Homo sapiens: one gene and its partners. The protein of the gene in region 1 purifies or fractionates together with the protein of each later gene. This does not show direct contact. Each region holds a gene or a part of one and is shown in the gene's direction. Other genes may lie near its edges. The genes, in order: TMIGD1, CALD1, HMGA2, LAD1, NDUFA5, IDH2 and ETFB.

What was found.
Region 2: the proteins of TMIGD1 (region 1) and CALD1 purify together in Homo sapiens (co-immunoprecipitation; one study listed by IntAct). This does not show direct contact.
Region 3: the proteins of TMIGD1 (region 1) and HMGA2 purify together in Homo sapiens (co-immunoprecipitation; one study listed by IntAct). This does not show direct contact.
Region 4: the proteins of TMIGD1 (region 1) and LAD1 purify together in Homo sapiens (co-immunoprecipitation; one study listed by IntAct). This does not show direct contact.
Region 5: the proteins of TMIGD1 (region 1) and NDUFA5 purify together in Homo sapiens (co-immunoprecipitation; one study listed by IntAct). This does not show direct contact.
Region 6: the proteins of TMIGD1 (region 1) and IDH2 purify together in Homo sapiens (co-immunoprecipitation; one study listed by IntAct). This does not show direct contact.
Region 7: the proteins of TMIGD1 (region 1) and ETFB purify together in Homo sapiens (co-immunoprecipitation; one study listed by IntAct). This does not show direct contact.

The regions. Positions count from the first base shown.
Region 1 is NC_000017.11:30,331,116-30,336,003, reverse strand, and holds the start of TMIGD1 (transmembrane and immunoglobulin domain-containing protein 1 isoform 1 precursor), read left to right. Parts: upstream 1-1,946; 5' UTR 1,947-2,004; intron 2,005-3,845; 5' UTR 3,846-3,870; coding exon 3,871-3,952; intron 3,953-4,888. UniProt on the Homo sapiens protein: May control cell-cell adhesion, cell migration and proliferation, cell morphology, and protects renal epithelial cells from oxidative cell injury to promote cell survival.
Region 2 is NC_000007.14:134,943,099-134,947,286, forward strand, and holds part of CALD1 (caldesmon), read left to right. Parts: intron 1-4,188. UniProt on the Homo sapiens protein: Actin- and myosin-binding protein implicated in the regulation of actomyosin interactions in smooth muscle and nonmuscle cells (could act as a bridge between myosin and actin filaments).
Region 3 is NC_000012.12:65,827,324-65,831,511, forward strand, and holds part of HMGA2 (high mobility group protein HMGI-C), read left to right. Parts: intron 1-677; coding exon 678-764; intron 765-4,188.
Region 4 is NC_000001.11:201,385,137-201,389,324, reverse strand, and holds part of LAD1 (ladinin-1), read left to right. Parts: intron 1-21; coding exon 22-165; intron 166-2,146; coding exon 2,147-2,990; intron 2,991-3,519; coding exon 3,520-3,624; intron 3,625-4,188. UniProt on the Homo sapiens protein: Anchoring filament protein which is a component of the basement membrane zone.
Region 5 is NC_000007.14:123,550,776-123,554,963, reverse strand, and holds part of NDUFA5 (NADH dehydrogenase [ubiquinone] 1 alpha subcomplex subunit 5), read left to right. Parts: exon of another isoform or gene 1-3,596; intron 3,597-4,188. UniProt on the Homo sapiens protein: Accessory subunit of the mitochondrial membrane respiratory chain NADH dehydrogenase (Complex I), that is believed not to be involved in catalysis. Complex I functions in the transfer of electrons from NADH to the respiratory chain.
Region 6 is NC_000015.10:90,085,054-90,089,241, reverse strand, and holds part of IDH2 (isocitrate dehydrogenase [NADP], mitochondrial isoform 1 precursor), read left to right. Parts: intron 1-494; coding exon 495-655; intron 656-739; coding exon 740-883; intron 884-1,666; coding exon 1,667-1,803; intron 1,804-1,978; coding exon 1,979-2,130; intron 2,131-3,854; coding exon 3,855-3,967; intron 3,968-4,143; coding exon 4,144-4,188. UniProt on the Homo sapiens protein: Plays a role in intermediary metabolism and energy production. It may tightly associate or interact with the pyruvate dehydrogenase complex.
Region 7 is NC_000019.10:51,352,672-51,356,859, reverse strand, and holds part of ETFB (electron transfer flavoprotein subunit beta), read left to right. Parts: intron 1-2,017; exon of another isoform or gene 2,018-2,221; coding exon of another isoform or gene 2,222-2,551; coding exon 2,552-2,710; intron 2,711-3,569; coding exon 3,570-3,728; intron 3,729-4,188. UniProt on the Homo sapiens protein: Heterodimeric electron transfer flavoprotein that accepts electrons from several mitochondrial dehydrogenases, including acyl-CoA dehydrogenases, glutaryl-CoA and sarcosine dehydrogenase.

The DNA.
Region 1 (4,888 bases):
ATGTTGGCCAGCTTGAGAGAGTACACTTTGCCCTCACAGGGCAGGCTGAAAGTGCCAGAGAGTCAACACCTTGAGAGTGTCCCTCAGCCGGAGATGGAGAGAAGTTGCTTCCTTCCCTATCAGTAGTTGATTCTGAGGTATGCTGCACAGAATACAACTTGTCCAAAGCTCCAGGGATATAGTTGCTCACGGTAGTAATCTTTAACACATTCTTTACTAGTTTCCTCCCTTCCCTATCTTACTTCCTTACTATGCTTCCTGAGATCACTTTTTTTTTTTTTTTTTTTTGAGGAAGGGTCTCACTCTCTCGCCCAGATTGGAATGCAGTGGTCCAATCTTGGCTCAACACAACCTCCACCTCCCAGCCTCAAGGGATTCTTCCACCTCAGCCTCCCAAGTAGCTGGGATTACAGGCGCCCGCCACCATGCCTGGCTAATTTTTCTATTTTTAGTAGAGACGGGGTTTCATCACATTGGCCAGGCTGGTCTCGAACTCCTGACCTCAAATGATCCACCCTCCTCGGCCTCCCAAAGTGCTGGGATTAAGGGAGTGAGCCACTCACCGTGCCCGGCCGAGATCACCTTTAAATAAACTATTGGCACTCAAAGCTCTGTCTCAGGGTCTATTTTGGAGGCACCAAGAACCAAAACATCACTCCATTGCTAAATTCATTTTAAAATGACAATCTTGGATCCCTGGAGAGGCAAACTCAAAACCTGTTTGGGTGGTGCTTGCAACCCAGCCAACAGGAGCTGCTCTTAGCTCTGATTTTTGCTTGAACAATGCTATAGTGAGGTTGTGTTGATTTAGGATGCCCTGCTCAGCCTATATTAATAATAATAGTAATAAGAGCTACTGTTTACCAAGAGCTTACTGTGCGGCAGATTCACATGCTTCATTTCATTTAATCCTCACAGTGACTCCGTAGGGAGGGTACTATTACTATTTCCATTGTATTGATGAAGATCCTGAGGCTCATGGAGGTTAAATAACTTTTCAAAGTTACATAGCTAGTAAGAGGCAGATTGCTGGTGTGCTTCAGCAGTGTGTTAAAATGTGTAGATAACTATAAATATTCTTCTGTTATATTTTTGTGTAAATGGGAACAATAGTACTTGGCAGATAAAATTTGCATCGTTAACAATACCATAAACATAGTGTAATGCAAGGATCTCCCAATCAGGTGAGAGCCTCAAGAGGATAAAACTGTTCCCTAGGCCAAGGTGGGCAGATTGCTTAAGGCCGGGAGTTAGAGACCAGCCTAGGAAACATGGCGAAATTTCATCTCTACCAAAAATATATATATTAACAAAGTTTAGCTGGGCATGGTGACTCACGCCAGTAGTCCTAGCTCCTTGGGAGGCTGGGAGCAGAGGTTCAGTCAGCCACAATTGTGCCATTGCATTCCAATCTGGGTGACAGAGTGAAACCCTGCCTCAAAAAACAAAACAAACAACAACAACAAAAAAACGGCTCCCTGCCATGCCTGGCTTGGTACAGCTTATGCACTGGGCTTGGGTTACTAGTGGTAACTAAGACTTTTCCAGCATTATTTAAGTTGTGTAGAATCTTCCAATGTTTTGACCTCTGTTAAAGTCAAACTTCTCTTTGGACTCGTCCCTTCACAATCCCCAGGCTAGATGATCAAAACGCAGCCATCTTACTTAAATATGACAATATTCAGTGAGATGCGCTACAGATTTTTGCACAAGTTCAAGCTTTCTTGGAACAACACATCCCTGTTAGTAATATCCGGCCCCACCTAGTAACCGAGGTAGACATAGAAACTTAGATCTTAAGAAGATGTCTTTCCCAATTACTATCTTCTCTAAGACTCCATAAAGAAAAACAGACTTTGAACCCAAGTTATCTTATTTATTTGACCCTGCTGTCATAAAGCGTTCAAATTCAAGTATTATAAAGGATTGTAACAGGGAAAGCATTTAGGGTTTTCAGGCAGAGGAACAGTTGGCCAAGGAAGTCAGCTTCTCAGAGCTCAAGAGGTAAGTGGTAAGACTGTCTTATATAGAAAGTAGAGAGTCATACAGATTAAAAACAAGCCAAGTGAGGGGAATACATTTTGAAAAGTTGCTGTCTCGGTGGAGTGGAGGGAAAGAGAAGACATAGATTTGTCCCCTTAATAGGGCTGGGTGAGGTCTGGCAAGAAGCCTGCACTCTCAGTTTTTATTGAGTACTTGTAGTGCAGAGCGCTTGAGAAAACTCTACTATTGACCACATTCTGCAGTAATCACTGTTACAACACTGTGATAGAAATCTTTTTGGCAAATATTTAAAATTACAAAAGAATCAATATTAGTAGTAATTGCATCTTACGAAAAGATTGATGCAGGCTTGTCTGCCAGAAAGGGTGAGCCTGGCATGAATGAAACTTACTCCTGTCAGGGCACGCCTGGGACAGGGGAGGAGTAGAGTAGGTATAGGTATATTTCAGCTCTTGTAAATTAATACTGGTGTTAAGGGGAGAGAACTCCCAGTGGCCAGGGACTGGAAAAGATTAACAGCAGCTTTTTTTTATTTTTTTATTTTTTATTTTTATTTTTTGAGACCGAGCCTCACTCTGTCGCCCAGGCTGGAGTGCAGTGGCATAATCTTGGCTCACTGCAACCTCCACCTCCCAGGTTCAAGCAATTCTCCTGCCTCAGCCTCCCGAGTAGCTGGGATTACAGGCGCTCGCCACCATGCCTGGCTAATTTTTTTTTTTTTTTTTTGCATTTTTAGTAGAGATGGGGTTTCACTATGTTGGTCAGGCTAGTCTCAAACTCCTGACCTCAGGTAATCCACCTGCCTCAGCTCCTAAAGTGCTGGGATTACAGGCATGAGCCACTGCACCCAGCCTAACAGCAGCTTCTTAAAGGAAAAGAATATTAATCTAGGCAGTAGATTGGGTAGTAGGGTGGTTGAGAGTAGGGTGGTTAAGAGCATGGTCTTGGGAGTCTGGGTTCAAATCCCGACCTTGACATTTACTGTCTGTGGGATCTCAGGCAAATTACATAGTCTCTTTAAATCTATAGAAACGACCTCAGGAGGGTTGTTAGGAGGCTTAATTGTGACTGAAATGATGTATGTAAAGTGTTTAGCACAGTCCCTGTTGCGCAGAAAGTTTTCCGTATGTGGTTCGCTATATTTATAGTAGTACTCTTGAAAGGAAGTAATGAATATATGTTTTTTTCCCAGATGGAAATGGAGAATATCTTAGGGAGAGGGAGAGTTGAAGCAAAAGCAAGAAGGGAGAAAGGACACCTTTATTATTTATTATTTTTAGTCCATTGGGTCAAGGGGAAGAGAGAGAGAGAATAGTGGGAGAAAGACAAGATTAACATGGTTTAAACTAGAGGCCATGTTTCAATTGAGGCTTTTCTACGTACACACCATTTGAATCTATGGGATTTGGAGTAGTCTCAAAAACTCTCTATTATCAGAGAACATCTTTACAAAAATGACCCAAGAAAAACTTTCAGAACAAGAATTACTTTGTTCAGTAGGGACTGTCTGAGAATGAGACAAGTTTCATTCTGCTAAAATGAAATTCTATCAGTTTCTCTAGGGAAGACTGGTTTCATCTTCCCCAGGGCACCCTGACGCTGCTCTATCTGTCATAGCCTATTTCCTGTGGTTTTATGTTGCTTTTAAAAAAAATTTCTTACTACTAAATGTACTTTGAACTTAGTCAGACAGGGTTGTTTAATTAAAAGCTAGAAGTAGTACCGTTATAGCTGGGATGATTCATCTGGGACTTCACTTTAAATGCATAATAGACAGAAGGAAGGTTCACGAACTCATTGCAGACCAAAGTACAAAACCAACTGCACTATTTTTCCCTTAGTAGATCTGAGTTTAACTCATTAAAGATGGCATGGAAGAGCAGTGTCATAATGCAAATGGGAAGATTTCTTCTCTTAGTAATTTTATTTCTGCCACGTGAGATGACAAGTAAGTTAAAGTTCTTTTTGGCCTCTTTTTAGATAAAGAAAAATTTCCGATTAAGAAAAGTGATCAATGGGCATTGGATATATCCTTAAATTCCAAATTGGAATGACTACACAGTTAGCATGGCTCACAGTACAGGAGTCAACTAACAATAAAAAATCAAATGGAGGCCAGGCGGGTGGCTCACGCCTGTAATCCCAACACTTTGGGAGGCCGAGGCAGGTGAATCATGAGGTCAGGAGATCGAGACCATCCTGGCTAACACGGTGAAACCCCATCTCTACTAAAAATACAAAAAATTAGCCTGGTGTGCTGGCAGGCGCCTGTAGTTCCAGCTACTCGGGTGGCTGAGGCAGGAGAATGGCGTGAACCCAGGAGGTGGAGCTTGCAGTGAGTGAGCCGAGATTACGTCACTGTACTCCAGCCTGGGCGACAGGGCGAGACTCCGTCTCAAAAAAAAAAAAAAAAAAATCAAATGGAAAAATATTGTTTTTAGGGTTTTATTATTACAAGACAAGGTGAAGTATTCTATTCTCTCCAGAGCCACCACCAGAATCCTCCTACATTTTAATGCATTTTATTACTAATGTTACCCCAAATAATCATCTGTTTATCTGAACATACCATTTCACATGAAAATCTTTCCAGCATTTGCTCTCCTACCACTCTTTTCTGATTTTAAAAGTAATGCATAGTCATTGTAAAATAAATCAGGCAATCTATAAAAAAAAAAAGAAAAGTACAAATCCCCCCAAATACTTTCATCCAGAGATGACAACCACTCAATATTCCATATTTTAATAAAATACTAGACAACAATACCATTATCTTTACAAGTAGCTTAAGTTTTTTGCTTTTTTGAGAAGAAGTCTCACTTTGTTGCCCAGGCTGGAGTGCAGTGGTGTGATCTTGGCTCACTGCAACCTTCATCTCCCAGGT
Region 2 (4,188 bases), on another chromosome or scaffold:
ACGCTGATTGAAGTAGAGAAGTATAGTTTTGCTCCATATACATATAAAATGAGGAGAGAGGAAGAGAGTATCCGCCTAGCCTCTATTTAGGTAAGTTTAGTACCTACCAGCTTCACTGAAAACAAGCTGTGTTCTTAATGGTCAAAGGCCTGATACTCATCTTGACTTACACCTAAGGAAGCCAAGGACGGGGGTAGGGTGGTGGGGGTGGGGTGCGGGGAGAAAGAACTTTATGGAACGATTTCCACATTAAGTGGCACCCTAATGCTGAGGTCATGCACATAGGCAGAGGTGGTGTGAACAAAACTTTTGCTCCTGTTTTGAGCATAGCTGCTTATGTGTGATTTAATTACTGTTCCCTTTGATATCTGCATTTTCTTGTAACTCGTTTTCTCTAAAACATGACATAAAAATCTCAATTCAATGAGCAAGATATAGCGATGCAAATTATACCAAGGGTTTTATAGAAAGTGCAAAATGGTTTTTTGATTTTTTATTTTTGAAGGTAGAAATTAAAAGATTTTTTCCGATTATAGAAAAAAATACTCATTATAAAAACGCTCAGAAAATAGAAGAATAAAAATAAGCACCCACCACCCAAAGATAACTAGCAGTAACACTTTTTCCAGATATTTATCTATGTATATAATATTCAAGATAAATGCACACACGTGTGTATATTTATATGTAGTATATACGTGTGTGAGTATACTTATAATTTTACATTGATTCTTGCACTGTGCATAAGAATGTGTCATAGCTTGCTTTCTATGCCAATAAATATAAGCCTATAATTAATGATATTAGATTCTACTGGATGGATGTATTAGGACTTATTTAGCCAGTCCCTAATGACGGACATTTTGATTGTCCAAAATGAAGACTGAGTGACACCTAGTGGAATCCATAGATGTTTCTATAGGCATGTGTTTTGCCGGTCCAGTTCCTGTACAGTAATATGATGAACACAAAGAGAGAGCAAACTCATTTTTGGAAGGAAAGACCCTAAATTGACTGAGAGAGGAGTCACAGGCCTGTGAACCTAGAAGACCCTGAAAGAGCCTTTGACAGCAAGGTTTTGAGGGACCCTTTAACCTTGTTTGAGTTCAAAATAAAAGTTTACCTGTAACTGGCATGAGCCTAGACCAATAGTTCTAAATTTTTTAACCTAAGCCCTTAGTAAGAAATAAATTTTACATAATGACCCAGTACACACCTGTATATATTTTTATAACTGAAACAAGTGTGTCAAGAAATGGTACTTTGTTTTGCTCTATGCAGTGCACTCTGATATTTTCTGTTTTTTTTTTTTTTAAATGTTGATTACAATCTACTAAATTGATTTTCTGGTCTGCAGCTTGAAAATTATTGTTCTGGAGGACACAGGATATTCAGAACTACTTCAGTGTTTAAAAAGCATGATATATAATATACATATATATATTATAAAATCAATATTGCACAGTGTATTTCTTGAGCCCATTTCTTGTTTTATTCTTCCTCTTGTTTCACAGCTAGAAACACTGTACCATTCTTTACATGTAGTAAATGATGTTAGGGTGTGATAATTCCTTTGTTCCTTAGACAAAAGTGTCAGGAATAGGATATCTACGTTGACATCTAGTTAAGAATGACCTTACTACTTGCTAATAAGTATTTAAATGGCAAAGCTGTATCTCTGTCTCTTAAAGACTACTTATAACAAGGGCTTCAAGCCTAAATTAAGCCACTAAATTCTGCTTAGTGAAGTCCCAGGCAAATCCAACTTAGGTGAACTCTGTGTTAGTGAAAACTCTGCATTCTACTGAAGTTCTACTTTGAGTATCGACATGTTTTAAAATTATCAGTGTTCTAACTGTATCATACAGTAAATTTATTAAAGAAACTCAGGGGTCACAGTAGGTGCTAATGATATGTCTTCATCTTTTTATAGTTGTGTAAAATACTAAAAATACCAGTTCCAAAATAAAATTTTACCATAAGGACTCTTGGGATAGCATTCTGTCTGAAGTCTTAATATGTTCCCAATTCTGCAATGAAATCCCTGTGTATCCTCCTTAATCACAAAAGAAAATTCAACATAATTTCAATTTTAGTTCTTACTTACATAAAAACGTACCCATTTCTTCCTGTTTTATAAGCTGTTCTACCTGATGAAGCTTCTGCTTCATCTCAGGCACGGAAGGTAGCTAGACCTAGACTGTAGAAACTCTAGAGACAGAGGTAGGAAACGCTTCTCTCAGACTCTATCCTGAAGGTTTGAGGTAAGAGGTGGAGAGATGGAATAACATGTTCTATTTCAGTTTATTCATTGTTTCATAACAAAACGTATTTAATTTCAGGTATAATTATAGTTACAAGAAGAGTACAACTAATAGATAAGCATTAGAATCTGATCATGGCTCGACTGCTTTCTAGCTTCCAAAAGTTTGAGTATATTATTCTCTGTCTTACCTGTGGTTTCCTTGTTTGTAAGATGGGGATAATAAACCTAACCTGACATCTTCCCAGTTATTGTGACTGTTAAATGAAGTAGTGGATATGAAAAGGGTTTAGAGAGCATAAAGAATGACATGTAAGTAATAACCTTAACCACATCATACCAAGCTAATTTCATAATTTTAAGTCTGTATAAGGAGTATTCCAGTTGTATTGGGGTCAAAGAGCATAGAAAATTCACAAATTGAAGCCATAGGTTAATGCAGTCATTAAGGACTTTCCTGGAGCAGCTCTGTAAGAATAGACATAAATCACTGTGTTTAGCTCTTAATCAAGAGGCAATGGGTAATTTCGTCTGCCAGAGATCAGCTGCTAGAGTCAAGCTCAAGGCACAGTTGTGGACAGATGGATTTACTTCAATGCCTACCCTTAGTTACAGCCACTTTTTCCCATTCCCAGCGCCTGAACCTTTCTGTCTTCCCTCCTGATCCATTACTCCAGGCAGACCCAAGTTAACCAGTAACTTACGGGAAAGGACTAGTAAGGCCACTACAAGACTTTTGAACTCATTCACAAGTAACCTTTTGGACTACATGCCTCCCTTTCTAATAACAACTAATATTTATACTGTAGATGATATAGAAATTATAGTATATCAGTATGATATCAGTATGATATCATACTGATATAATACATAAGCCCATGCAACCCACTGAGGTAAATAGAATAAATAGTATTTACCCATTTTTCCATGTTGTAGCATGTATCTTCTTAAAAATTGTGGTAAAAACAAACATCACCTAAAATTTACCATCTTAAGCATTTTTAAAAGTACAGTTAAGTAGTGTGAGGCATATTCATATTGTTGTGCAACAGATCTCCAAAACTCTTTTCATCTTGCAAGACTGAAAGACTACACCCATTAAACAGCAACTCTTTATTTCCTGCTACCGCCCACCCTCTGCCTCTGGTAACTACAGTTCTATTTCTGTCTCTATGAATTTGACTACTTTAGATCCCTCATATAAGTGGAATCACACAATATTTGTATGATTTCCGTGATTGGCTTATTTCACTTAGCATAGTATCTTCAAGGTTTATCCATGTTGTAACAGGTAACAAGATCTCCTTCCTTTTTTTTTTTTTTCTCTTTTTTTCTTACAGACAGAGTCTCGCTTTGTTGCCCAGGCTGGAGTGCAGTGGCACAATCTCGGCTCACTGCAACCCCTGCCTCCTGGGCTCAAGCAATTCTCCTGCCTCAGCCTCCAGAGTAGCTGGGACCACAGGCACACGCCGCCACGCCCGGCTAATTTTTTTTTTTTTGTATTTTAGTAGAGACAGGGTTTCACTGTGTTGCCCAGGCTGTCTTAAACTCCTGAGCTCAGGCAATCCGCCCGCCTCGGCCTCCCAAAGTGCTAGGATTACAGGCGTGAGCCACTGCACCCGGCCTCTCCTTCCTTTTTAAGGCTGAATAATATTCCATGGTATGGCTAGACCACCTTTTATTTATCCATTCCTGCTATGATGGACACTTGGGTTGCGTCCATCTCTTGGTCCTTGTAAATAATGCTGCTATGAACACGGGTATACAAATGTCTCTTCAAGACCTTGCTTTCCATTCTTTTAGAAGTGTATCAGAAGTGGGATTGCTGGATCACGTGGTAGTTCTCTTGTTGATTTTTTGAGGAACCTCCATACTGTTTCCATAGCAGCTGCACAACTTTACAATCCCATTTTACAGTGCATATT
Region 3 (4,188 bases), on another chromosome or scaffold:
CCATGCCTGCATCTCCAAAAGGAAGTGGAGAATTGAAGCAATTAACTAGATGATTCAAGCAAAACCTCCCACCATAGATTTACTATAATTATTTGGAAATTTTAGGGGGAATGGAGTTATTTTGAACTGAAGAACTTGAATAATTGCTCCAGTATTTCACTCAAAATGTGTCAGTTGAATCATAATCCACCTAGAAGGCAGGTATACAAAGATGATTAAAGGCCACCTTTTCAATATGGAAGATTGTTGAAATATCTGTGATGGTAGCTTCGTATTTCTGTTGTTTGAAATGCTAGTATAATGCAGAGTGGTGTTCGTTTAAAATGCCTATTATTCCTATGAGTTGCCAAATGCATAGCCCTGTAAACTTTACACCTTAAAAGTATATGACTTTCTTTCTAGAACATGCCTCTTCAGTCTTTGTTACCATTTTAGGTTTGAAGTAGAATCTAGTTTTCATATACAAAATAGAGTTTCCTCTTTGAACCCTTGCATTAAAAGTATAGTTATTTCCCCTTTCTGTAAACTCTGTACCATCATCATCCATTTATGCTTGAACTGAACGTGTTCCAACAGCTCTTTTGAGCAGCACATGCAGAAAATATAGCTAAAGAGTCAGGGTCAATTTCTTTCAGACATTCTTGCCACAACAGCATTTTTTTTTCCCTCACAATTAGGAACCAACCGGTGAGCCCTCTCCTAAGAGACCCAGGGGAAGACCCAAAGGCAGCAAAAACAAGAGTCCCTCTAAAGCAGCTCAAAAGGTGAGATTTCTCAAGTCAAGCTCTCCTAACTTCATCAATGACTGACTACAGGAGCCTGCCTGTAACTTTCCCATTCTAACTCCGCAGCCAGGAATTTGTCCCAACTGGGTAACACAAGACTCATTTCTTACATTTAACATTAGTTAGATGCGAGTTAACCTTTTTTGTAAGCAGATGCTCAGCATAAAAAGTTTATGAAGATACTTAACAGTGTTGTTTTTAAACAAACAGCCACCAAATAATTTGAACCTTAAAACGGGTAGAAGTGAGGAAGGAAGGGGTTGCGGGGGGGGCGGGATGAAAATGACACAATTAATATTTGCACCAGTTGTAAATAGTTAAAAACAAATCAAAACTATAGATTTTGCCTGGTGGTAAAGTTTTTGCAATTTCCTCTGAAAAATGATAAAGATTGATTTACTTTGTGCTTATTACATGGCTACTGCAAACCAAATCCCCCTATTAAAGTACTTTGCCAAATAGACGATAATTAGAAGTAAATCTAGTTGTGGGATAGTGGAAAAATTCCATGAATTTTGCAGCTTTAATTGTGATAATAAAGTATACTGTTTGTTTTACAATAAACCTGCAGTATAGTATATCATAATCTCAAAATGCCTTTTCATCAAGTGACATAGAAATGTCTGAATTGGACAATGAGACTTTTTAAAACAAGTATTTGGCTCATTTAATATCTCTTTTTGGGCAGAATGGAACCCAGTTAAGTGTAATATTCAGTGTTTATCTTAATAAGTTTAAACTTGCAGTTTAAGATAACTTCAGGTTGGCTGTGTTTAAGCTAGCAAAGAGGAACTATGTCAGGGTTAATGCATGTATAGAGAAGTACCAGTCACTTTTTTGACTTTATAAATAAATTGGAAAAAAAAGTTTCTGCGTTGTATTTGTAGGTTTGTGTAGTAATTGAGAACAAAGTTTCAAAAATCAGAACTAAATTTGGATATACCTTTTCACCGGTTTTGGGTACTCCATGTACAGTATTTGTTAGAAAGGACTATATGCTCATCGTTTGGGGATTAATGTTTTGTGTGATTTTCTTTGTGACTGTGGGTACTAACTGTAATGTATGTAAACTGCCATAGCAACTAATGGTACATATAAAGTTATTTAGGAAGTTACTCTGAGTTCTTGTCTGTTTTAACAGTTTTGAACAGAGTTGAGGAGCATATTTTTAATATATTTAAATTTAATTGCTTCTTAGAGTTTAGATTTAATTGTTTCTTATTTAATCAATAAACTTTAAAATAGCTCTAAGTAACCTTGTTATTTAAAAATGGCAATATATAATCTGGTATTTTTAATATGAATACTTTACATTTGTTTCATTTTATCTCATTTATAAATTAACTAAAATGGACTGATTTTACCAAGGAGTTTTTCTATGTTGTGTAAGTGTGGAGTTTACCTAATTTACTTTTATTCTAAGGAGATGCACAAATGAATATCTTGTTAGATAGCTGACACGCATTTAAGCTGTGGTATAATTCCTCTGAAAAACACATCATGATAATATCTCCTAGGAAGAAATCTTTAAATTTCACCATAAATAAGTAATTTGAAATTTAATACTAAAAAGGAAAATGAATTGTCTCCCATATTTTACTATATTTCATGTTTTTTGGATGAATAGATAGAAACGCTCCCATCGCCTCCGCTTCATTTTAAAAAGCTTACCACTGACTAACAAAATTTGTATTGAGAAAAGGGAAGCTGAAGCTAGTGCCTAGTTTACCACCTAAAGCAAAATTTTTAAAGTTGATCTATTCCTAAGTAAGGGTTGATTTATTTTTAGTGACTCTAGTGACAGGCATTTGTAAATGACCCCCCTACGCCGCTCATCTTTCTGAAAATTCTTCATGTGTATGCATACATTATTCCAATTTCCAAAACAGAAGTAGGCTTTCTTTTTTCTAAAGATTCCTTCTCCAGAATCTTTCATTCTTTCAGACACAATTATTTCCTACAATGGTGTTATAAAAATCCCTCTTGTAATAAAAATGAATAAATACATTTGCCCATAACATGACTTATTTTTCTTCAGTTTTATAAATTACGCTTCATCTGGAGAAGAGAATACCTTGCAAAATAATGAATGACATTGATGAATCGTTCATGGCATGTGTAAACTTAAGGTATTTTCACTTTCAAATCAGAATTTGTTGAGTATGTTACTATTCTATATAAATATGATTTTCAAACATTTGTTTATTAAGCATATATTGTGTTCTAACAAAACATATATGTTCGTCAGGATTTTGCAATGCAAATCTTTTTAGAAAAAGTTATATTGTTCATAACATGTAAGATAAACATACCCTGTGAGACTGACCAGAATAGATATGAGAAGTCTTCTATGAGTAACAAAGTGAGTGTTTTCCTGTAAACTGAGACCCATCACAATGCAAAATACATTGCAAAGACTGGTAAGTATATGAGAAGAAAGAAGCCTAAAATTAGAGGAGCTGCAATGCACACTGAAATCCTGATGGTTATATACTTAAAATTTCTTGCTGCTTGGAGTTTCTTGACTTACAAAGTTTATATTTGGATTCAGTAATTGGCCTTGGGACATTTGAAAACAAAGCTGTTGATTTGAAAATTAACAGTGTGAAACTGGACAATGCATGCAGAATGTTGCAAGACCAAGTGAATGACTACTAAATTAGCCATCACTTCAATTTCAAACCATATTCAGTAGAAAATTGATTTATATAATATGTAAAACAAAGACATTTATAAGAACACAATTTCCTATGCTTGGAACTTTTGGAAGAGAAGATAATTATTCTTCAATCTACTTAATATTCCATTAAAACTAATTACTATGCATGACCATTGTGTAATGATTCTAGTCATTCCTCAGAACTCCAATCTGAGTGCTCAAAATTTGTCCCTGAATCAGTTTCATATAGTTACCTGAATAAAAGAAATCAGAAGTTAAAGTTTTCCTGAATAATTCATTTGTCCATGTGTGTATACGTCTGTGTGAGCATATCTTTACCCTTTTATTTATTTTTTAGTCTGAGGTACACCTATGACCAGTTATGTCTTAACTTCCTTTTTTGTTTTGTTTTGCTTTGCTTTGCTTTCCTGGTTGTGGTGGATGGAAATCTTTGCATTTTTACAGTTCCCAGATGGTTAGAGAGAAAGAAGTTATAATCTCCTTTAGTTTAGGGTTTTGTTGTACTTTTTTAATCATGACAGAATACTGGAGGGGTTGTCACTAATTCTTCAGTGTTGAAGGTCTCAGGTCAAATTCACCTTTAAGTTTTAAGCCAATTCTCATTCACATATTTTAGGAAGTTTTTTTCTGAGGTTGAATTAAATTTTATTGGAAGGAAAATGAAAATAAAAAAAAAAGATCTCAGGTGTGAGATAACCCTACTTCATCATGTCATATATTTGT
Region 4 (4,188 bases), on another chromosome or scaffold:
CCCTCTCCTCCCCTCCCCCAGCCTTGCCCGGCAGAGGACTCTGGAGGATGAGGAGGAACAGGAGCGCGAGCGCAGGCGGCGGCACCGCAACCTGAGCTCCACCACGGACGATGAGGCTCCCAGGCTCAGCCAGAATGGAGACCGGCAGGCCTCTGCTTCTGAGAGGTAGGTGCTCAGGTTTCTATCCTGATGGATGGGGATGGACTGGTTGCCTCAGACTAAGTGCAGCATATTCAGTCTGCTCAGGGAGTTGGGGCCCAGGAAATGAGGCTGAAGGGTGTGATGATGAATTTCCAGTTCCCCACCTTCCCCAGACTCAGTCCTGCCAGCTTCCATCCTCTTCATAACAATGCTTGCTACTATTTGTAGACCATCCATGAGCCAATACTGTGCTGGACATTTTATGGCCATAGCTCACGTAATCCACACAATGTCCCTGAGAGAGAGGTATTGTTAACCCATTTTACAGGTGGAGTAACAGGGTTGAAAAGTACTTAGGTGACTTGCTGAGGTCACGTACCTCAAGAGTGGCAGGGCCAGAATGTCCATCCAGATCTGTCAAGCTCCCGCCTCCTTCCATTATCCAGGCTGCCTTCTTCTAACCCTGACCCTCTATAATTTACTTCTTTTTTTTTTTTTTTTTGAGACGAAGTCTCGCTGTGTCGCTAGGCTGGAGTGCAGTGGCGCGATCTCAGCTCACTGCAAGCTCCGCCTCCTAGGTTCAAGCAATTCTTCTGCCTCAGCCTCCTGAGTAGCTGGGACTACAGGCACCCACCACCACAGCCAGCTAATTTTTGTATTTTTAGTAGAAATGGGGTTTTACCATGTTGGCCAGGATGGTCTCGATCTGTTGACCTCATGATCCACCTGCCTTGGCCTCCCAAAGTGCTGGGAATACAGGCATGAGCCACCGTGCCCAGCTGCCTTTTTTTTTTTTGAGATGGAGTCTTGCTCTGTCACCCCGGCTGGAGTGCAGTGGCGCAATCTTGGCTCACTGCAACCTCCGCCTCCCAGGTTCAAGCTATTTTGCCTCAGCCTCCCGAGTAGCTGAGATTAAAGGCACCTGCCACCATGCCCGGATAATTTTTGTATTTTTAGGAGAGATGGGGTTTCACCATGTTGGGCAGGCTGATCTTGAACTCCTGACCTCAGGTGATCCACCAGCCTCAACTTCCCAGTGCTGGGATTACAGGTGTGAGCCGCTGCACCGGCCTATAATTTACTTCTGAGGAGAAGAACCTTGGGGCTAGTTTTGCCATCTAGATTTTGGGATTATGAGGTGGGGGAAGAGCCTGGGGTTTACTGAATGCCACCTACATGCCAGGACTGTCCTGGGCACCCTCATGAGTCTCATTTTGCTTCCTAACAAGCCCAGTTTGTAGATGTGAAAACTGAGGCTCCGACAGTAAGTTAACTTGCCTGAAAGCACATGGAGAGCAGGGTGATGAGGAAGGAAAATAATCTCCTTTTGCTGGAGGCCAGGTGCTGTGGGTTATGGACAATCCTCTCATGTTACTTTTGTTTCTTTGGGTCCCCCAAGAAGGGAGAACAGGGCTGTGATGACCCTCTCCTCTCCTGTCCTCCCCTCCCCCAGCCTTGCCCGGCAGCAGACTCTGGAGGATGTCCAGAGCTGGGCTGCACCAGTACCTGTGGCTGTCACCTAGTCTTGGCTGCACCCACAAGACTGACAGGAGTGTGGAATGGTGCATCGGAAGACTTAGGTTCTGCTCCCAGCTCCCCCACGAATCAGCTGTGTGACCTTGACAAAATCCCTGGACATCTCTAGTCTTGATCTAAGATCTAAGGGGCAGAGACTGTGCTTATTCCTTTTGATCCCCAATGCCCCAAGCAGGCTCTGGCACATATTAAAGCAGTTATTCAGAGTCTGTTGACTACGTCTGAACATGGAGTCGTTGGACTTCATAGGAATTTATAAGCTTTTTAAAAAGCATAGTGTGCTTTGCTCAGATGATACCTTGGAAGTGCAATATATCGAGTGGATAAAGGTGGTGGTGAGCCGGGGAGGCCAGGGCCTGACATCCTCACCTCCTCCTTGGTGGCCCTGGCAGCATCTCCATTGGGTTAGGTATACTTAGGGTATCTTCCACCTCTATCCTCTGATTCTGTCTCCCATCTTCTGATTCAGACTACCGAGCGTGGAAGAAGCAGAGGTGCCCAAGCCACTGCCCCCAGCCTCCAAAGATGAGGACGAGGACATCCAGAGCATCCTCAGAACACGGCAGGAGCGGAGGCAGAGGCGGCAGGTGGTGGAGGCTGCACAGGCCCCCATCCAGGAGAGGCTGGAGGCAGAGGAGGGGAGGAACAGCTTGAGCCCTGTGCAGGCCACACAGAAACCCCTAGTCTCCAAGAAGGAACTGGAAATCCCACCTCGCCGGAGACTGAGTCGGGAACAGCGGGGCCCCTGGGCCCTGGAGGAGGAGAGCTTGGTGGGCAGGGAGCCAGAAGAGAGGAAGAAAGGGGTTCCAGAAAAGTCCCCAGTCTTGGAGAAGTCCTCCATGCCAAAGAAGACGGCACCTGAAAAGAGCCTGGTCTCCGATAAAACCTCCATCTCTGAGAAGGTGCTGGCCTCAGAGAAGACATCTCTATCAGAGAAGATAGCAGTGTCAGAGAAAAGAAACAGCTCAGAGAAGAAGTCTGTTCTAGAAAAAACCAGTGTCTCTGAGAAGTCGCTGGCCCCAGGGATGGCACTGGGCTCAGGAAGGAGGCTGGTGTCTGAGAAAGCTTCCATCTTTGAGAAGGCACTGGCCTCAGAGAAGAGCCCAACTGCAGATGCTAAGCCGGCCCCAAAGAGGGCCACAGCCTCAGAGCAGCCCCTGGCGCAGGAGCCGCCAGCCTCTGGGGGAAGCCCAGCCACCACCAAGGAGCAGAGAGGAAGGGCCCTCCCTGGGAAGAACCTGCCCTCTTTGGCAAAGCAGGGGGCTTCAGACCCTCCGACTGTGGCCTCCCGCCTCCCACCCGTCACACTCCAGGTTGGCAGTGTCCCGTCCCTCCCACCCTTCTACTCTGCCACCTGGCTGGCACTGCCGGCCAGTCCCACCCAGGTAGTCCCTGGTTCCCTGGCTGCCTCCATCCTCCTACCTGCAGGCTGGCCTTGGAAGTCTCTTCTTTCCCTGCCTGCTTCTAGCCATGGTCAGAGCAGGGAGGCTGAGATGGGGCAGGCTGCTGGAGCTTAAAGGGGCACCAGCTGTGGGGCAGGGAGCATCTGGTGCCCCCCACCATATCCTCATCCAGGGCCTGGGCTCCAGGACCCCGGCAGACTAGTGGGGAGCCTCAGATCCTTCTAGAAGCTCCCCTGGAAAGCTCTGCCTGGTGCCCTGGCCCCAAGGGACTTTGTCTGTGAGCCACTCCCACAGCAGATGAAGGAGGCAGGAGAGAAGGCACAGGGCTGTCTCATTCTCCCCTCTTCCTGCAGCTCCTGGGGTGAGCCATGGGGTTTATGGCTGCCCCGGCTTGATGGGCCCTAGACCTCTTATGTGACACTCCCCCTGCTCCATCCAGGTGAAAATCCCCAGCAAGGAGGAAGAGGCAGATATGTCCTCACCCACACAGCGAACCTACAGCAGCTCCCTCAAACGCTCCAGCCCCAGGACCATCTCCTTTCGGGTGAGAGCCCTGGGCACCCTGGTCTGCGAGCCACTGGAGGGCAAGTGGAGGAAGCCCGCATCCATTACAACATAGGAGCCGTAGGTTAGGTAGGAAGGTCCCCTGGATAGAGAGGAGCTTTGGATTCCCATGGGTGGCCCTGAACAAACAAGGTTGTATTCAGCAGAGGAGAACAGGTTAGTAACCTGGGGGGTAGGTGCCAGTAAGCATGAGCAGCCCCACCTAGTGGGCAAGGCCAGGGCTGCATGAAGACCGGACAGGCAGGGCTGGCCCTGGGCTGCAGGGAGGTCCACACCTGCCTTCATCAGTTCCTGGCCTCACCTAGGAGACTTGTCTAGGAGGGGAGGGGAGGAACAGAGAGCAGCAAGGCTCTCCTACTGCTCCCTGCCCTGCCACTCTCCCAATAGTACAAACTATGTGGATTGGGGAAATCTCGTCTTGCTTTGTCCTGGTGTTTATTCTTGGTTCTTCTGTTCACTGGGTCATTCACTCAATCATTGGGTATCATGCCTCTAATGTGTGCCAGGCCCTGGAGAGGTGGCCCAATAGCGACTGGTGCCCCCA
Region 5 (4,188 bases), on another chromosome or scaffold:
ACGCCTGTAATCCCAGCACTTTGGGAGGCTGAGGCGGGTGGATTGCTTTAGCCCAGGAGTTTAAGACCAGCCTGGCCAACATGGCAAAACCCCGTCTCTACAAAAAATGTGGAAATTAATCAGGTGTGGTGGTGTGCACCTAGTCCCAGCTACTCGGGAGGCAGAGGCAGCAGGATTGCTTGAGCCCCAGAGGTTGAGGCTGCAGTGAGCTGTGATGATGCCATTACACTCTAGCCTGGGTGATGGAGTGAGACCCTGTCTCAAAAAAGAAAAAAAAAAAAAAGAGATAACAACTAATAAAATAGAACAATTATAACAATATACTGTAATAAAAGTTATGTGAATGTGGTCTCTTTGTCTCAAAATATCTTACTGTACTGTACCACCCTCTTGTGATGAAGAAAGGATAGAGTGGGATAGTGTGAGATTTCACCACACTACTTTGAACGGCACATAGTTTAAAACTTATAAATTGTTTATTTCTGGAATTTTTCATTTAATATTTTCTGACTGAGGTTGACTATTAGTAACTGAAACCTTGGAAAATGAAACCACGGATGGGTAAAGGGGAGCTACTGTATTCTAACCAAGTGCTGGCCATTAAAAACATAATGCGAGCCTTAAATGTAAGCCATATTTGTATGTAATTTAAAATTTTCTAGGACTAATTTTTTAATGAAGAAAAAGGTAAAATTTAATTATTTTATTTACCCTAACAAATCTAAAATATTGCCATTTCAGTATATAATAAAAAAATTAATGGTATTTTATAGTGTTTTTCTTCATACTAAATTTTCCAACTCTGGTATGTATTTATACTTATAACACATCTCAGTTTGGACTAGCCACATATCAAATGCTCAGTAGCCATATTTAGCTAGCATCTACTGTTTTAGACAGCACAGTTCAAGAAAATAGAACTATATACCACTTCCTTATGTTTGCTGTATTTTCTGCCATTCAGTTCTATGTATTCTGTATGTAATTGCCTTTTCCAATATCATTTAAGTTTCTATGATCTACCATCCCTCTGGGTCTATCTTAGATGCCACCTTTTTGAAATATGAATGCTTCTCTGGTCTCAGCTGAAGTGAATTCTTCTTCTGCTATAGAAAAATAATGCTAATACTTAGTGAAACTTAATGTGTACCAGGTACTGTTCTAAGTTGTATATACCCTATGAGGCAGTATTATTCCCATCTTACAGATGAGGGATGAAGGCACAGAGATGGAAATAACTTGTCCAGTGCACCTAAGGAGTGGAGCCAGTGTAAACTCAAGCAGTTATGTTCTGGTTAGCACACCCTTAACCGTTGCTAAGTATTATAATATCTCTTTGCTCTATGTATTTCCCCATCCCTGCCAAACACACACTTATTTTTTCTTTTTATCATTTTTATTATTTTTCCTCTTCTGTAGCTTACCCTGTGATATGGTTTAGCTCTGTCCCCATCCAAATCTCATCTTGAATTGTAGCTCCCATAATCCCCATGTGTCGTGGGAGAGGAACCTGGTGGGAGGTAATTGAATCATGGGGTGGGTTTTTCCCATGCTGTTCTTGTGATAGTGAAGAAGTCTCGTGAGATCTGATGGTTTTATAAAGGGCAGGTCCCCTGCACATGCTCTCTTGCTTCCTGCCATGTAAGACAAGCCTTTGCCCCTCTTTCATCTTCTGCCATGATTGTGAGGCCTCTCCAGCCATGTGGAACTGTAAGTTCATTAAACTTCTTTTCCTTTATAAATCACCCAGTCTCAGGTATGTCTCTATTAGCAGCATGAGAACAGATAAGTACACTCGATAGTACCTTAAACATATTGGAGTGTGATCCATGTCCAGTCTATCTTTATACGCAAACAGTGTGGTATTGTACATGGAAGTACTGAGTATATTTTTTCGCGGGTAGCGACTGTCTGGGGCTGGTGTTGCGTGGTGGTAAAAATAATTTACCAAGACATTTGAGGTAAAGAAAGGCAGATTTATTAGAGAAAGTATGAAAATACATTGCAAGAAAGCTATTGGCAAGTCAGCAAAAGAGGAGCTGAATGCAAGTAGCAAAGGCTTGCTGGGGATCTTAAAGGATGGTGCTTGTGCTGTGGGCTGAAGAGAGCTTTGTGCAGTACTGATAACACCTAGGTTGCAATGAGCTATCAGGCGAGGGTCTGATGATAGCTGGGCACAGGAAGATTGTGAGTTATTTGTGGAGGAGGACTGTGTGTCCTGGACCATGAAGAAAGGTGGACTTCTAGCTTATCTGCTTTTTTATTTTTGCTTTACCCTGTTCCCTTATTAGGACTGCACACAATTTTTTTTTTTTTTTTTTTTTTTTAGTTATACTTTAAGTTCTGGGGTACATGTGCAGAACGTGCAGGTTTGTTACATAGGTATACACGTGCCATGGTGGTTTGCCGCACCCATCAACCCGTCATCTACATTAGGTATTTCTCCTAATGCTATCCCTCCCCTGGCCCCCCACCCACTGACAGGCCCCAGTGTGTGATGTTCCCCTCCCTGTGTCCATGTGTTCTCATTGTTCAACTCTCACTTATGAGTGAGAACATGTGATGTTTGGTTTTCTGTTCTTGTGTTAGTTTGCTGAGAATGATGGTTTCCAGCTTCATCCATTTCCCTGCAAAGGATATGAGCTCATCCTTTTTTATGGCTGCATAGTATTCCATGTTGTATATGTGTCATATTTTCTTTATCCAGTCTATCACTGGGCATTTGGGTTGGTTCCAAGTCTTTGCTATTATGAATAGTGAGGACTGCACACATTTTTTTTTTTTAATTGAAAAAAAAGGTTGCTCTTTAGGAGAAGGGTTTGTATACTTGTAATTATTGAGACTTACTCCTGGAGTGATCATGTCTTGTTTGTTTCAACTGTTCTGGTTCATACCTGTGTTTTGGCGTAATGATTAATAGGTATCTTTTCACTGTTATAAGTGTCCAAGTTTGGATGATAAACTAAGTGTCCACCCTATTGATAACATTTTTTCTTTTATTCTATATTAATAGTCCCCTGTTCTCATCTGTATTTCTCTAGACACTGATACATTTTTGTCAGGAAAGATGAAAATTTAAAACCTGAATTTTAGATCATATTAAAACTTAATTAAAATGCTATATTAAAAACTAATATATGCATTATATATTTAAATTGGAGAGGATCAACTTCTTACTGATTTCTATACTGAAGTTTAAGTTCAGTGTGCTTCAGTACATGCTATGCATTGACTCAATTCTCTTGCTACTTTTTCGGTTGAGCCTTTTATGCAGACTTTATGTCGTAACTCATTCATAATCAGAAGCAAGAACACTGAAGTATTATGACCGTATTTAGTTAAATTTGATCATACAGATGTAATGATTATATGTGTTTATTTCTACAGAAATTCAAATAAGAAAAATTAAAAAAAAAAATTTGCAGTGCTTCGGACCTCACTTTGAAAAATACTGATTCAGGCTGGGTGGGCTCACGCCTGTAATCCCAGCACTTTGGGAGGCTGAGGTGGGCGGATCACCTGAAGTCAGGAGTTTGAGACCATCCTGGCCAACATGGCAAAACCCTGTCTCTACTAAAAATAGAAAAAATAGCCAGGTATGGTGGCGGGTACCTGTAATCCCAGCTACTTGGGAGGCTGAGGCAGGAGAATCACTTGACCCCAGGAGGTGGAGGTTGTAGTGAGCCAAGTTCACGCCATTGTACTCCAGCCTGGGCTATAAGAGCGAAACTCCGTTTCAAAAAAAAAAAAAAGAAAGAAAGAAAAATACTGATTTAGTAAATGACTTGATTTCCAAAAAGGTCATTAGCAATAAGTTGTTTTGTTTCTGACCAGTCTGGCCAACATGGCAAAACCCCGTCTCTACCAAAAATTAGCCAGGCGTGGTGGCGGCCACCTGTAATCCTAGCTACTGTGGAGGCAGAGGCAGGAGAATCGCTTGAACCTGGGAGGTGGAGGTTGCAATGAGCCAAGATCATGCCATTGTACTCCAGCCTGGGCAACAAGTGAAACTTCGTCTCAAAAGAAAGAAAGAAAGAAAAATACTGATTTGGTAAATGATTCGATTTCCCAAAAGGTCCTTAGCAATAAGTTAGTTTTGTTTCTACTTGTTATCATACCTTTGACTTATCTAGAACTTGTTATACACAGAAAATACAGAATGTTCCCATGTTTATATACAGGTTTTTC
Region 6 (4,188 bases), on another chromosome or scaffold:
TAAGCCTCACCATTAAAACTGGCAGACTTGCTGGGCATGGTGGCTCACACCTGTAATCCCAGCACTTTGGGAAGCCGAGGCGGGTGGATCACCTGAGGTTGGGAGGTCGAGACCAGCCTGACCAACATGGAGAAACCCCATCTCTCCTAAAAATACAAAATTAGCTTGGTGTGGTGTCACATGCCTGTAATTCCAGCTGCTCGGGAGGCTGAGGCAGGAGAACCGCTTGAACCCAGGAGGCAGAGGTTGTGGTGAGCCGAGATCGCGCCATTGCACTCCAGCCTGGGCAATAGGAGCAAAACTCTGTCTCAAAAAAAAAAAAAAAAAAAAAAAAATTGGCAGACTCCAGAGCCCACACATTTGCACTCTAGACTCTACTGCCTTCCTCATGAAGAATTTTAGGACCCCCGTCTGGCTGTGTTGTTGCTTGGGGTTCAAATTCTGGTTGAAAGATGGCGGCTGCAGTGGGACCACTATTATCTCTGTCCTCACAGAGTTCAAGCTGAAGAAGATGTGGAAAAGTCCCAATGGAACTATCCGGAACATCCTGGGGGGGACTGTCTTCCGGGAGCCCATCATCTGCAAAAACATCCCACGCCTAGTCCCTGGCTGGACCAAGCCCATCACCATTGGCAGGCACGCCCATGGCGACCAGGTAGGCCAGGGTGGAGAGGGGATCCACTGACCTGGGCACCCCCCGACTGGAGCTCCTCGCCTAGCCATCCTCTTGTCTCTGCAGTACAAGGCCACAGACTTTGTGGCAGACCGGGCCGGCACTTTCAAAATGGTCTTCACCCCAAAAGATGGCAGTGGTGTCAAGGAGTGGGAAGTGTACAACTTCCCCGCAGGCGGCGTGGGCATGGGCATGTACAACACCGACGAGGTGAGGCTGGCTTGGGCATCCTGGGCCCCTCCTCTCCCAGCTTGTCTCTTCATCTCTGTCTCGTGGCTTTCCTTTCTTCTGTAATGGCCTCATTCTTAGGCCACAAAGAGGCAGAAATGGCCACCAGGGCTGGGCATGGTGGCTGACACTTGTAATCCCGGCATTTTGGGAGGCCAAGGCAGGATTGCTTGAGACCAGAAGTTTGAGACCAGCCTGGGCAACAGTGAGACCCCATCTCTTGAAACAAAAAGAAAAGAAAAGAAAAGAAAAGAAATGGCCACGAGCAGCTCCAGGCGTACTCCTGCCTGCTTGGCTACCCTATCAGAAGAGAATGCCTCTTTATCCCCAGTTCCAGCTCCAATGCCAGGCTGAGTCACATGACCACCTCTGAGCCAATCACAGAGGCCCTGGGGAGAAAGGCTTCTGATTGGATAAGCCAGGGACACACTGTCAACCCCAGCGCTAGGCCTGGGAATTAGCCCTGCCCCAGCCACATGTAGTCTAAGGCGGTGCTTTCCAAAAAAAAGTTGTTTCCAAAAAAAAAAAAAAAAAGGCGGTGTTTTCCAAAAAAAAAAAAAAGGCGGTGTTTTACAAAGCAAAGTTGAGAGGGAGAGGCTGGGCCAGCAGAAACATCGTGTGCACTGCACGGAGGCTGGTGTTAAACAGTCGCGTGGGCGGCGGGGTACCGTTCCTGGAGAGCTGGGCCTTGCCCTGGGAGGTGGGAGGTTGCCGGCAATCGCCAGGCTAGGGCACCACGCCAGGGCCCTGTCTCTCCCCCTGCAGTCCATCTCAGGTTTTGCGCACAGCTGCTTCCAGTATGCCATCCAGAAGAAATGGCCGCTGTACATGAGCACCAAGAACACCATACTGAAAGCCTACGATGGGCGTTTCAAGGACATCTTCCAGGAGATCTTTGACAAGTAAAGCCTCATCCATGTACTCTGTGGCCTTTCTTCCCTTCCCCCCATGCTGTTCCCATCCTACCCTGGGAAGGTCGCTATTAGAGTGCATTTGGCTCAGCTCCGAGGCTCAGGGAGGGATCCCCAACCTGTCAGCCTTCTGCCCTCTCCCCATAACAGACCTTTTTACTCCCAGGCACTATAAGACCGACTTCGACAAGAATAAGATCTGGTATGAGCACCGGCTCATTGATGACATGGTGGCTCAGGTCCTCAAGTCTTCGGGTGGCTTTGTGTGGGCCTGCAAGAACTATGACGGAGATGTGCAGTCAGACATCCTGGCCCAGGGTACGCTGGGAGGACGCTGCTCCCTGTGGGGGTGGACTGTTGGTCTTCTCTGGCTGGAGGGATTTTCAGACCCTTTTGGTAGAAAACTCTAGTGGAGCAGGACTCATTGCAGGGTCCTCTGTGGACAGCAGGGGGCAGGAGCTCCCTGGCATCTGAGTGAGAGAGGATCACAAATTAGGTTTGGACTGGTGTATGACTGAGGCTGCTCTTAGAGAGAAAGGAGGGCACAGGAATTCCAGGGCTAGGTTGACAGCCCTAAGGTTGCTCCAGTCCATGATGGAGCCTCATGACTCTTTGGTTCCAGTAGGAAAATGGGATCAAGCGGGACTGGAGGTTCTTTAAACTACAGCGAATGCATTTTGCATAGTGAACCTAATGGATGGAAGAGAATGTTGGGGAAGCCTGCAAACCCCCAAGCCCTAGGGTGTCCTAAAAGACAAATCAGATTGCAGTAAAAAGTATAGGTGATGAGGTCAGGAGTTTGAGACCAGCGTGGCCAACATGACGAAACCCCGTCTCTACTAAAAATGCAAAAAAATTTAGCTGGGCATGGAGGCGGGCACAGTCATGGACACCTGTAATCCCAGCTACTTGAGAGGCTGAGGCAGGAGAATCTCTTGAACCCAGGAGGTGGAGGTTGCAGTGAGCCGAGATTGCGCCATTGCACTCCAGCCTGGGCAACAAGGGTGAAACTCCGTCTCCAAAAAAAATAAAAAATAAAAAATAAAGTATAGGTGAGACCATTAGAGAAGAACAGCGAGAAATGGGCCAATTGTGTTGGGAACAAGAGCAGGAAAGGTGGTAGGTGTGGGAAACAGGCAGGACATAGAGAGTGAAAGAGAAACCTAAGCTTACCAGGGCAGCTCCTGGTATGGGGAAAAGGGAAGCCCAGGACGGGTTCTGATGAAAAGCAGAGTCTTGTTACTTTGTGTAAACCTTTGGCTTTACTTTGGAAAGTTCAGTGGGGATCCTCTCACCGAACAATTCCCATCTAGGATAGAAGGATGAAACGCCATAGCAGATGAGGCAGAGGCATGAAAATGAACCTTAAGTGTCTAAGGAATGGTGTGAAGGTGCAGGTAAAATGGAGAAGGGATTGCTTACAGCCAAAATTCTTAGAATTCATAGACAAAGCATTTTCCTGTAGATGTTGTCCATGTTTTCTTTCTTCAATCCTTATTTTGGTGTCATGGGGGTGCCTTTGAAGCCCTGGAGTCCTTGACAATAGAAAAGCTTGCTGGAGTTGACATGTGGATTTGGGAGCATTCAGAAATTAATCAAAAAGCTTGAAAGTGGCCTAAGAGAGTAGCTGCAAAAGTGATTGTTGGGAAATAGCTGACCACAGCTTTATTGTTTTCCTTGAATGTGCCTCCGGGTCACGAGCCAGGCTGGGTGGCAGGCTGTGGGGGACCACAGGACTCTGTGGCCTCTTGGGCCCTGTGGGCCACAGGCTGTGGGGCGCCTGGAGCTGGTGACACAGATGGATGTTAATGTGCTGGTGATAGCCACCCTCCAGTGCCCTCCAGCCCTGTGCTGGGCCCTGGAGACCCACAGGAGGGTGAAGAGACCTGGAACAGTCCCTGTCCTCCCAGTTGCAGCTGGGGGAGGCTGAGTAGAGCCACGAACTATGGCAGCTACAATATTGGGTTGTAGAGGGCAGCAGGGCTCAGCTGGGTGGCCCCAGGAGAGGCGAGGCCCTGAGAGAAAGGCTTTCTACCCTCCAGGCTTTGGCTCCCTTGGCCTGATGACGTCCGTCCTGGTCTGCCCTGATGGGAAGACGATTGAGGCTGAGGCCGCTCATGGGACCGTCACCCGCCACTATCGGGAGCACCAGAAGGTGAGTGCAGGGCATGGGGCCTCACAATGCCCCTCTACCCCAGGGGCCTAAAGCCCACTGGGCTGAGGGCTGGAAGGACGAGCCTGACCCACCAGCCCAGGGGCGGGCAGCTGTATCTGGGCAGCCTCCTCACTAGCTGGCTCGGCTCTTGATCTCCCTGCAACCCCCGTCCCCAGGGCCGGCCCACCAGCACCAACCCCATCGCCAGCATCTTTGCCTGG
Region 7 (4,188 bases), on another chromosome or scaffold:
GGAGTGTCAGCAGAAGCTGGAGGAGGCAAGAAACGTGTTCCTCCCGGGGCCTGCAGACCCCTTGGTCTCACCCTGGTGACACTGACTTTGGACTTCTGGCCTCCAGAGCTGTAAGATTCTAAGCCACCAAATATATGGTGATTTGTTACGGCAGCCGAGAGAAACTAATAGGAGAGTGGTTAGTGGTTCACGCTACACCCTGGTCTACACCGGAAGCCTCTCTCCCTGGCACATGATGGTGTCCCCAGGATCCAGCTCAGAGCCAGGCACACAGTGGGGCCCAGGAGAGACAAAAATGATGTGCAGAAGCAAATGGGTGGGGTTTGCCACCCACCTCCCTTACCTCCCTTGTCTGTTTAGCAAAGAGGTCTTTCATGCTGGTGTTTTCCAAATTAGGTTGTGACCATGTGTGATCATGACATCCAGGCAGAGGGCTGGCATTTTTCCGAAAAAGGGTAGAAAATGTCAGAGTATGGTGTGTGTGTAGGCAGGGTCAGTATTGGTCACTGACCCTTACACTGCAGTGGCATTTGTGAAATAGGTCAGGGTCACTGGTCACGTTGTCTAAGGTGTTATCCGAGCTCGTTTCACAACCAAGAGAATTAAAGAGCATAGACCACCCAAAAGGTGAGGTTGGAGCGAAAGTTTAATAAGCAAAAGAAGAAAGCTCTCCACAGAGGAGAGGGAAGCCCAAGCGGGTTGCCATTTTTACAGTTGATTCCAAAAGCTTTTTTTTTAAAAAATTATTTATTTATTTATTTTTTATTATTATACTTTAAGTTTTAGGATACATGTGCACAACGTACAGGTTTGTTACATGTGTTTATATGTGCCATGTTGGTGTGCTGCACCCAGTAACTCGTCCTTTAGCATTAGGTATATCTCCTAATGCTATCCCTCCCCCCTCCCCCCACCCCACGACAGTCCCCGGTGTGTGATGTTCCCCTTCCTGTGTCCATGTGTTCTCATTGTTCAATTCCCACCTATGAGTGAGAACATGCGTTGTTTGGTTTTCTGTCCTTGCGATAGTTTGCTGAGAATGATGGTTTCCAGCTTCATCCATGTCCCTACAAAGGACATGAACTCATCATTGTTTATGGCTGCATAGTATTCCATGGTGTATATGTGCCACATTTTCTTAATCCAGTCTATCATTGTTGGACATTTGGGTTGGTTCCAAGTCTTTACTATTGTGAATAGTGCCGCAATAAACATATGTGTGCATGTGTCTTTATAGCAGCATGATTTATAATCCTTTGGGTATATACCCAGTAATAGGATGGCTGGGTCAAATGGTATTTCTAGTTCTAGATCCCTGAGGAATCACCACACCGACTTCCACAATGGTTGAACTAGTTTACAGTCCCACCAACAGTGTAAAAGTGTTCCTTTTTCTCCACATCCTCTCCAGCACCTGTTCTTTCCTGACTTTTTAATGATCGCCGTTCTAACTGGTGTGAGACGGTATCTCATTGTGATTTTGATTTGCATTTCTCTGATGGCCAGTGATGATGAGCATTTTTCATGTGTTTTTTGGCTGCATAAATGTCTTCTTTTGAGAAGTGTCTATTCATATCCTTCGCCCACTTTTTGATGGGGTTGTTTGTTTTTTTCTTGTACATTTGTTTGAGTTCATTGTAGATTCTGGATATTAGCCATTTGTCAGATGAGTAGGCTGCAAAAATTTTCTCCCATTCTGTAGGTTGCCTGTTCACTCTGATGGTTAAACTAAAGAGCTTCTGCACAGCAAAAGACACCAAAAGCTTTTATAAGAAACTCCTTTCATCTCTGTAGCTGTTTGAGTATCTTATCTGTAAAGCTATCTGCATAACTCTCCGTTATCTATGTAGTTGTGGGTACGTCTTTAGGCAAGCACAAAGCTCCGCTTCTCTTGTTTCTGTAACCGTGGGTTTGTTTTAGGTAAGCTCCGCCCCTCCCCGTGCAAGTTCCCACAGAGACCACCATGTACGTGCCTGAAAAGGGGAGGGAACTTTTCCTGGGAGCCTGTCAGTCACGCAAAGAACAAAAGGCTTCTGTGCTGGGCAGCTTGAGTTTTCCCCAGGCTGCTCTATTGTTGCCTGTAGCTGTGATTTTTCAGGCAGGCTGCTCCTCTGAGGACCACCCTTAACTGTCTACCTAACTGGTTTTTCCTTTTCTTCTCCTCATTTGTATTTATGTATCAGTGTATTATGTATTTATATACACTTGGAGATACAGTAAAATGTACCTCTCACTGTGGGTTACCATAAATACTGTAAATTTGAGAAACACTCTTTCAGGCCTGAGAGGAGCAGTGACAACAGTAGGGATGATCAAGTCAGATGTCCCTGGTACCCAGGAATGGCTGGATGAGAGAAGGAGACAGGGTGACCTGCCCCTGCCTACAAACTCTAACCCAGTTCTGTCCCTGGAGCTGTGTGACCCCGGACAAGGCCCTGCCCCTTTCCAGGCTGTCGTTGTCCTCATCCAGCCTGGGAGAGGGTTGGCGCTGAGGCCCCCACCTTCTTGCCTGTTTCCTCCTGACCCCACCCCTTCCCCTCCTGCTGGGCAGATCCGAGTGAAGCCTGACAGGACCGGTGTGGTCACGGATGGTGTGAAGCACTCCATGAACCCCTTCTGTGAGATCGCGGTGGAGGAGGCTGTGCGGCTCAAGGAGAAGAAGCTGGTGAAGGAGGTCATCGCCGTCAGCTGTGGGCCTGCACAGTGCCAGGTGATGAAGGTCTTGGGGAGGGGGCTGGACTCCTGGGTCTGACGGAGGAGGGGCTGGGACCTGGACTCCTGGGTCTGAGGGAGGAGGAGGCTGGAAGTCTGGACCCCTGGGTCTGAGGGAGGATGGGCTGATAGCCTGGATTCCTGGGTCTGAGGAAGAAGGGGATGGGGGCCTGGACTCCTGGGTCTGAGGAAGGAGGGGCTGGGGGCCTGGACTCTTGGGTCTGAGGAAGGAGGGGATGGGGCCCTGGACTCCTGGGTCTGAGGAAGAAGGGGATGGGGGCCTGGATTCCTGGGTCTGAGGAAGGAGGGGATGGGGCCCTGGACTCCTGGGTCTGAGGAAGGAGGGGCTGGGACCTGGACTCCTGGGTCTGAGGGAGGAGGAGGCTGGAAGTCTGGACCCCTGGGTCTGAGGGAGGATGGGCTGATAGCCTGGATTCCTGGGTCTGAGGAAGGAGGGGATGGGGGCCTGGACTCCTGGGTCTGAAGAAGGAGGGGATGGGGGCCCGGACTCCTGGGTCTGAGGAAGGAGGGGATGGGGGCCCGGACTCCTGGGTCTGAGGAAGGAGGGGATGGGGGCCCGGACTCCTGGGTCTGAGGAAGGAGGGGATGGGGGCCCGGACTCCTGGGTCTGAGGAAGGAGGGGATGGGGGCCCGGACTCCTGGGTCTGAGGAAGGAGGGGATGGGGGCCCGGACTCCTGGGTCTGAGGAAGGAGGGGATGGGGGCCTGGACTCCTGGGTCTGAGGAAGGAGGGGATGGGGCCCTGGACTCCTGGGTCTGAGGAAGGAGGGGCTGCGAGCCAGACTCCTAGGTCCCCCTGAGGATAGCAGCCAAGTCAAGCCCCTCTGTCCTTGGCAGGAGACGATTCGTACCGCCCTGGCCATGGGTGCAGACCGAGGTATCCACGTGGAGGTGCCCCCAGCAGAAGCAGAACGCTTGGGTCCCCTGCAGGTGGCTCGGGTCCTGGCCAAGCTGGCAGAGAAGGAGAAGGTGGACCTGGTGCTGCTGGGCAAACAGGTAGCTGTGGTCAGCCCTCCCTGTGCCCCCTTGCTCATCCCTGCTCGGGAGGAGGGTGGTGGAGATACGGGGTGAGACAGCAGCTGGCCAGGCCCAGGGCATTCACCACTCCAGGCTGAGCAGCTTGGGACTTTGCTGACCCTTCTGACAGAGAGTTTGAGCAGGGAGGACAGAGTCCCTCTGGGTGTTAGAAAGATCCTCTTGGGCCAGGCACGGTGGTTTACGCCTGTAATCTCAGCACTTTGGGAGGCCGAGGCCAGTGGATCACTTGAGGTCGAGAGTTTGAGATTAGCGTGGCCAACATGGTGAAACCCCATCTCTTCTAAAAATATAAAAATTAGCCGGGTGTGGTATCACCTGCCTGTAATCCCAGCTACTTGGGAGGCTGAGGCATGAGAATCACTGGAACCTGGGAGGCGGAGGTTGCAGTGATACAAGATCGCACCACTGCACTCCAGGC